Homo sapiens: one gene and its partner. The protein of the gene in region 2 interacts with the protein of the main gene of each other region in a pairwise test. Each region holds a gene or a part of one and is shown on either strand. Other genes may lie near its edges.

What was found. Proteins that work in one complex are often made in the same cells at the same time.
Region 1: the proteins of TEX11 (region 2) and KIAA1217 interact in a two-hybrid assay, tested with the Homo sapiens proteins (one large-scale study listed by BioGRID and IntAct).

The regions. Positions count from the first base shown.
Region 1 is NC_000010.11:24,474,638-24,478,137, reverse strand, and holds part of KIAA1217 (sickle tail protein homolog), read right to left. Parts: intron 1-3,500. UniProt on the Homo sapiens protein: Required for normal development of intervertebral disks.
Region 2 is NC_000023.11:70,897,715-70,903,122, reverse strand, and holds part of TEX11 (testis-expressed protein 11), read left to right. Parts: intron 1-5,408. UniProt on the Homo sapiens protein: Regulator of crossing-over during meiosis. Involved in initiation and/or maintenance of chromosome synapsis and formation of crossovers.

The DNA of each region.
Region 1 (3,500 bases), on a different chromosome or scaffold from region 2:
GCATAAGAACCCAGCAGTGCCAACAGAAAGCACAGCCACCGATTTCTCAGCCTCCCACTGGTGTTTTTGCAGCTTCACATCTTCGATGTAAAATGTCACTTGAGACTCTCATATGAAAAACACTCTCATATTTATTTGCTTTTTAATATTATGAAATTGCAACAGAAATTGGATTGGTTCTTTATACGACCCTGTGCTCATGAAGTTAAGCTTTAAGGGGTTGAAAATTCTTTAACAATACTTACACAGATTAAGCATTTCTAAATAACATCATGGTATAGATGAGACAATGGATTATAATTTTGTGCTTCGGTAATTGTTTCTGATGTTCCTGTTTTTAACATTTTTCTTTGACATAGTACTCAGATGCATTTAAAAAAATGAAGTCTACCAAGAATGCTGTCCTCTTTCTTCCCCTATTTCTGCATAATTGTGCTAATATACTAGCTAGGGCAGTTATATTTAAAATGGCATGTGTATATTTAGCAGCATAATTATGCAAATTCTACTGTGTTTATGATTGTAAATATCCTTTAGGAGCAGTTACTTAGCATCTAGTCCTGAAACAATTTTTGAAGAATTCTGGTTGAAATGTTTAGAATTCACTCCTGAATTAACTTCTCTGTTGTGTGGAGGTGGGGCTTATAGTTCTCATTTGCAAGGCAGAATACTGCACAGTGGTAAACAGCATGGAATATGTAGAATTCTTTAATAGTCCTGGACATTTTATGCCACCTACTGGCTTTGTGGCCTCGGGCAAGTTACTTAACCTCTCTGAGCCTCAGTTTCTCCATCTGTAAAAAGGAGATGATGATAGTACATATCTCACTGGGTTGTCATGATGATTACATCATATAATGTATAGAAACCACTTCACATAGTGCTTGGCTCATAAAAGGCTCTCAATAAATGATAGGTGCCATTCACCTCCTTCCTATACATTCCCCAGGAATGCTACATGTCAGCCTAGTTACCAAGATATCTAAAAGAGTTCAGGGCCAGATTCTGAGCTGTCCTTGGAGGAGGAAGTATGGCATGAGCTTCACCCTTGTCACTTTGTCCCATGTAAGAAACAATGGGGGAAGCATGTAGGAGTGCTGAGGGCAAAAGTTCCAGACTCAAGTTCTTTTGACCAGAGAATTATTCTTCACCTTTGACATGTGACTGAGGGGAGTTAGCGGGGAGTGTTTAGGTCTTTCAGCAATAGTGAGTCTAAATGTAGAGAGAATGTGTAGGTGTGTCTGTCTTGTGTGTGTGTCGTGTGTCTGTGTGTGTCTGTGTCTTTGTGTGTCCATGTGGTATGTGTGTGTCTCTGTGTGTCTGTGTGTCTATGTGCAGGTCTCTAGGAAAAGAGAATCTAACCGGCCCACATATACCCAAGCATTCCAATTCCACCCTCTGGAGATAAGCTGATTACAGGTGGGGAGTCACCTTGGCAAGATGTATGAGATAAAATTTTTCCTGTGCTATTTTACATTATGGGGAATGAAAAATGTGAACATGTAAAATTACATTCATAATTACAATCATATGTCAGAATACACTGGTGATAATGACTGTATTTTAGGTGAATATTCATCTGTTTTGTCAGTTTTTCTTATATTGTTAATCTGGAAATAGAATAATTTGGATTTTCTAAAAAGGTTTTCTAACATGTAAAACTGAAGTCCATAGAATTTTCTGAAATTTTACAAAATGGAAGTCTCTAGGGTTGGCAGATCTTTTTTAAAAAAGGGAGTGGAGGCTCTCAAAGAATACCCATAGTACCAAAAGCTAAAATCTTTCAAGATTTTGATCCCATACAGAGATGACTCCACAGGTCAGCAGAGGGTTTGTTTTATTCTCTCCATAACTAAACGTCTTGAAAAGTGAGGCTCAAGGATGTACATTAAGTTGTGTGTGCGTGGTAATCACACAGATGACACTGAGCTAGGTTCTGGAAAGAAGGCAGACACCATCTTTGGTTGGCCAAAAATTTTGATAATTTCAGCACTATTCCCAAAAGAATATTACATCTAAACTAATCTGTTTTCATGCAAATTCAGGTTTTTATCATCCAAGAACCGGGGTGGAAACAGTTCAATATGGTCATGGCAAAATCAAGCTCCTGATGCTCTTTTATCTAGGATAGGTCAGTGTGGGAGGTAGGATTCTGGCTCTCAACATTATATGCAGGAGACAAATTATCTTTATTGTTTTCTGGTCTAAATTCTTGCTCCCGTAAGTTCCATCCCCTCAGCAACATACCATTTCCCAACCAGCACCTCAAAGCCTGCCAAAGGGGACAGGTGTGTTATCCTTTCTGTGAAGTATGCAACACAGGCTTCCAAGACTTATCGCACATCTTGGTAGATTCCTCTCCAGATGTCACATTGGTCTGTTCCCATGAACCACTATGAGTGTTTATCCTATACCCCTTAGCTGTCTGCAGTGACGGGAAGAGTCCCTTTCTTTGATGCTTAGAATTTCACTTCATGAGGACTTTGGAAAGGAGAGAATGAATACTATTTTCCAATCCTTATTTTTTCTTAGTCCTGCATCATCAAGCCATTCACTGTTGTTGTTATTCTAGCTACATGAGAGAGTTAGAACTTTTGTTTCATTAATGATCCCAGAACTTTCATGTTCTTTCTCTTTCTGTCTCCTGGAATCTTTCTGCTATGATATTCCCTGTAACTGAACAAGTAAGAAGGGATTGCCCTTTCATAATAAAACTGTGCTAAAGAGGACTTCAGGGCTTTCTGACTTGTGTGTGAAAACAGTAAGGTAGACAGGTCACATTCCATTCACAATTTTGGCCTTCTTTTTACATGGTATATAATAGTAAGTGATATTAACATTTTTTAGTGAGAAGCAGTGGTTCTAATAAGGTATTGAATAACTGAATATCTAGACACCTTATTTTTCTTTTTTCTTTTGAGATGAAGTCTTGCTCTTGTCCCCCAGGCTGGAGTGTGATGGTGCGATCTTGGCTCACTGCAACCTCCACCTCCCAGGTTCAAGTGATTCTCCTGCCTCAGCCTCCCGAGTAGCTGAGATTACAGGCACCTGCCACCACACCCGACTAATTTTTGTATTTTTAATAGAGATGGATTTTCACCATGTTGGCCAGGCTTGTCTAGAACTCCTGAGCTCAGGTGATCCACCTGCCTCAGCCTCCCAAAGTGCTGGGATTACAGGCGTAAGCCACTGCACTTGGCCTGGACATCTTATTTTTCATACCCCTTGATTCATATATAACAATAGGTAGCAGCATGCTTAAACCTTCTTTGGACTCAATTTCTTTGGCTAGATTTTTATGATTATTATGTTGACTTGTTTCAACCAATTCAGGCTAGAGAAATTCCCTTTATCAAAATTAGCTTTTCTATTACTATATGAACTTTGGAAGGTTTTCAAGATAGAGTAGGAAGCTTCTGAATTGGTAAATTATAAAATATGTCTATTTAAAAAGAAATTCAAGTCCCCAGAGAGTCTTTCCCTGGAAAAATTTTGCTGAT
Region 2 (5,408 bases):
CACTATTATCGCAGTAGGTGACAGGTCCATGCATTTTATTGCCCCTGAAGAACTTCCAGTGGGACAAAACGTGGAGGTGGAAGACAGTGATAGTGATGATCCTGAGCCTGTGTAGGCCTAGGCTAATAATGTATGTGTTTGTGTCTTAGTTTTTAACAAAAAGTTTAAAAAGTAAAATTAATAATGTTAACAGAAAAAAGCTTATAGAATAGGGATATAAAGAAAGAAAATATTTTTGTACAGCTGTATAATGTTTGTGCTTTAAGCTAAGTGTTACTACAAAAGCGTTAAAAAGTTAAAAATAATTAAAAAGTTTGTACTTTGGGAGGTTGAGGCGGGCAGATCACTTGAGCTCAGGAGTTCGAGACTGGCCTGGGTATCATGGTGAAACCCTGTCTCTACCAAAAATACAAAAAATTATCATGGCATGGTGGCACGTGCCTGTGGTTCCAGCTACTCTGTGGTCCCAGCTACTCCATAGGTTGAGGTGGGAGGATTGCTTGAGCCTGGGAGGCAGAGGTTGCAGTGAGCCGAGATCGCACCACTGCATTGCAGCCCCAGTGACAGAGTGAGACCCCATCTCAAACAAACAAACAAACAAAGCTTATAAAGTAAAAAAGTTACAGTAAGCTAAGGTAAATTTATTATTGGAGAAAGAAACATATTCTTTTATAAACTGAGTGTAGCCTAAGTGTGCAGAGTTTATAAAGTCTACAGTAGTGTACAGTAATGTCCTAGACCTTCACATATATTCACCACTCACTCACTGACTCACCCAGAGCAACTTCCAGGTCTGCAAGCTCCACTCATGGTAAGTGCCCTATACAGGTGTACCTTTTTTTATCTTATAAAAATTTATTATTATGTTATTTGAGGTAGGGTCTCACTCTCTCACCCAGGCTGGTGTGCAGTGGTGTGATCGTGGCTCACCACAGCTTCTACCTCCTGGGCCCAAGTAATCCTCCCACCTCAACATCTTGAGTAGCCGGGAATCACAGGCATGCACCACCATGCCCAGATAATTTTTAATTTTTCTGTGGAGACGGGATCTCCCTATGTTGCCCAGGTTGGTTTCGAACTCCTGGGCTCAAGCGATCCTCCTTCCTCGGTGTCCCGAAGTGCTAGGATTACAGCTGTGAGCCACCGTACCCAGTCATTTTTAATCTTTTATATTTTTACTTACCTTTTCTAGGTTTAGATATGTTTAAATACACAAATACTTATCATTGTGTTACAGTTGCCTGCAGTATTCACTACAGTAACATGAGTTATAGGTTTGTAGCCTAGAAGCAATAGGCTATACCATATAGCCTAGATGTGTAGTAGGCTATACCATCTTGTGTAAGTACACTCTATGACGGGGTCCTCAACCCCTGGGCCACGGACCATTACCTGTCTCTGGCCTGTTAGGAACCTGGCTGCACAGCAGGAGATGAGCCCTGGGCCAGCAAGCATTACCGCCTGAGCTCCGCCTCCTGTCAGATCAGTGGCCAGTGGCATTAGATTCTCACAGGAGCCTGAACTGCCCACACGAGGGATCTAGGTTGCATGCTCCTTATGAAAATCTAACTAATGCCTGTTGATCTGAGGTAGAACAGTTTCATCCCGAAACCATCCCCCCACCATCCGTGGAAAAATTGTCTTCTACAAAACTGGTCCCTGGTGCCAAGAAGGTTGAGGACCACTGCTCTATGATGTTGGGACAATGACAAAAATCACCAAATTACACATTTCTGGAATGTATCCCTGTCCTTAAGTGATGCACGCCTGTAATCTTTCTCTTTAGATTTAGGACTGATGATTTTTCTCTTTAGATAATAATATAGCTAAGACTGAATTTGCTTTTTCTTTCTTTCATACCACGCTAGTTATTCATTTTGAACTTTTTGCCCCCCAAATCCCTCAGTCTTTTTTAAGTATTTATTTATTTATTTAGACAAGGTCTCACTCTATTGCCAGGCTGTAGTGCAGTGGCGCTATCCTCCTAGGTTCAAGCGATCCTCCCGCCTCAGTTTCCTGAGGGAATATAGGCATGCGCCACCATTCCTGACTAATTTTTGTATTTTTGGTAGAGACAGGGTTTCACCATGTTTCCCAGGCTGGTCTCCTGAGCTCCTGAGCTCAAGCGATCTGCCTGCCTACTGGCCTTTTTTCTAGATTTTTCTTTCTTTCTTTTTTTGAGGCAGAGTCTCACTCCATTGCCCAGGCTGGAGTGCAGTGGCATAATCTCAGCTCACTGCAACCTCCACCTCCCAGGCGCAAGCAATTCTTGTGCTTCAGCCTCCTGAGTAGCTATGACTGCAGGCATGCCAGGCTAATTTCTGTATTTTTAGTAGAGACAGGGTTTTGCTGTGATGGCCAGGCTGCTCTCGAACTCCTGGCCTCAAGTGATCCACCCACCTCAGCCTCCCAAACTGCTGGGATTATAGGCATGAGTCACCACTACTGGGCTTCACTGATCTTTTATATATATATATTTTCATTTTAATTTCGTTTATTTCTATTCTGGTCTTTATTATTTCTTTTCTTCAACTAACTTTGGGTTTGGTTTGCTTTTGCTTTTCTAGTTGTTTAAGATGCATCATTAGGTTGTTCGGAGTTTTTCCTCTTTTTTGATGTAGGCACTCATAGTGATAAACTTCACTCTGTATCCCATACGTTTTGGTATGCTGTGTTTCCATTATCATTTGTTTCAAGAAAATTTTCAATTTTCTTCTTCTTCTTCTTTTTTTTTTTTTTTTTTTGAGATAGAGTCTCCCTCTGTAGCCCAGGCTGGAGCGCAGTGGCACGATCTCTGTTCACTGTGACCCTGCAACCTCCGCCTCCCGGGTTCAAGCGATTCTCCTGCCTCAGCCTCCCAAGTAGCTGGGATTACAGGCACCCACCATCACACTTGGCTAATTTTTGTATTTTTATTTTAACTAATTAATTAATTAATTTTTTGTTTGTTTTGAGACAGAGCCTCACTCTGTTGCCCAGGCTGGAGTGCAGTTGCACCATCTCGGCTCATTGCAACCTCTGCCTCCCAAGTTTAAGTGATTCTCGTGCCTCAGCCTCCCAAGTAGCTGGGATTACAGGCGTGCACCACCACTCCTGGCTATTTTTAAAAAAATATTTTTAGTAGAGACCGGGTTTCACCATGTTGGCCAGGCTGTTCTGGCCAACATGGTGAAACTCCTGACCTCAGGTGAGCTGCCTGCCTCAGCCTCCCAAAATGCTGAGATTACAGGCATGAGCCACCACACCTGGTCCTTTTTTTTTTTTTTTTTTTTTTTTTAATACAGGACCTCTCTTTGTCACCCAGGCTGGAGTGCAGTGGCATGAACGTATAGGTATGCACCACCACGCCTGGCTAATATTTGTATGTTTTGTAAAGACTGGATTTTGCCATGTTGCCCAGGCTGGTCTTGAACTCCTGAGCTCAAGTGATCTGCTTGCCTCGGCCTCCAGATTACAGGAGGTGCTGGGATTACAGGTGTGAGCCACGGTGCCCAGCCTCTATATTTTCTTTTTCTATTATATTTATGATGATTGTTAGGGAGGTAGACATTAGCTAATTTGTTTCATCAAGTCTTCAGAATATAGTTCCAATGTATACTCAATACCAGCCCTGTCCAGTAGAAATATAATGTGAGTTAGAAATGTAACTTAAAATTTTCTAGTAATCACGTTTAAAAAGTAAAAATAAATAGGTGAAATTAATTTTTAATATAATAATAATTTTAATGCTATAGCCCAGCATATTCATACATTTTTGTTCCAGCATATAATCAGTATACAAAATTGCTGAGATATTTTACTTTCTTATTTTAAACTAAGTCTTTGAAACCCATGTGTATTTTACAATTAAAGCACATCCCAATTTGAACTAGCCACATTTTAAGTGCTCAGTAGCCATATATTGCTACCATATTAGAGAGTGCAGATCTAGACTAAAAAGTTTAGTAGTAAAACTCAGTCAAGATAATTGGCTTTCATTGAATCTCAAAGGACTTTATTTGTAATCTTCCCTGAACTATCTTTTCCTTTAAATACAACAATGGGATCCTCAGATTAAGAATGACAGAGTTATTAGGAAATATCCCAAGACAGGGCCACATAGTTTAGAATCATGAGCATACTTATTTTACAGCCTGTACAGAAATCTTACAGATAATCAGTGAGATAATCACTGATGCCACCTGGTATGCACCTATTAGGGGGAATAGTACAGTTTATGGCCGGGTGCCGTGGCTCACGCCTGTAATCCCAGCACTTTGGGAGGCCGAGGCTGGTGGATCATGAGGTCAGGAGATCGAGACCATCCTGGCTAACACTGTGAAACCCCGTCTCTACTAAAAATACAAAAAATTAGCTGAGTGTGCTGGCGGGCACCTGTAGTCCCAGCTACTCGGGAGGCTGAGGCAGGAGAATGGCGTGAACCCGGGAGGCGGAGCTTGCAGTGAGCTGAGATTGCGCCACTGCACTCCAGCCTGGCCGACAGAGTGAGACTCCATCTCAAAAAAAAAAAAAAAATACAGTTTATAAAATAAAGACATTGAGTGACCCACAGAATTGAACTTTCTTAGTATGCCATACAGTGTCTTCCAAGTTCTGGCCCCTGTATACCTTTCTAATGGTGTTTTCTCCAGCCATACATAACTGCTTATGCTTGTTTGAATTCATTGTGCTTTTTCACACCTCTGTGCTTTGCCCTCTGGCGTGTTCCTTTCCCTCAGTATCTGCCTGGAAATCTCTAACTCATCCTTCAGCCCCACCTCAAGTAACACTTCAGTGAAGCTTATCCTGCTATTCCTATATTCCATCCCTCAAATGGGCATTTATGCAATCCTTTTACATTGCTGTAGCGTCTTCCACTCACAGCACTTATTACATTATATTATAATTTTTAAATTTTTATTTATTTTTAATTTTTTCCCTTCATCCTACTTTGATCTCATGACTGATTACTACTATAATTTTTAGAATGTAATTACCTTTGGTAGTGCAATCCTCATGATGGCATAGACTGCTTCACTCATCTTTATATTCCTAGCAAGACACCAGGCATTCAAGAAATGTTTGTTGAACTAAATTTTACAAGGAGACACGTAGACATCAGCCAAAGCAGAAAGGGTGCAGTTTCCTTGGATTCTGTTCAGGGCTGAGTTGCTAATAGCTTTGATCTTGGCCAAGTTAGTTAACTTCTCCATGCTTTATTTTAATCAATTATAAAATTAGAGTGTATTACTGGAATTTTAAGGTGATTTAGAACTTTAAAAAGTTGGTTCATTGATGCATGTATGAGACTGTGTCTTGTTCATGTCATATCTTTGGTGCTTAACAAAGTACTTGGTTATCATTAAAGTTTTATTGAATGATTGAATAAAATAACTCTTGTCTCTTTTCTTTCTTTCTTTCTTTCTTTC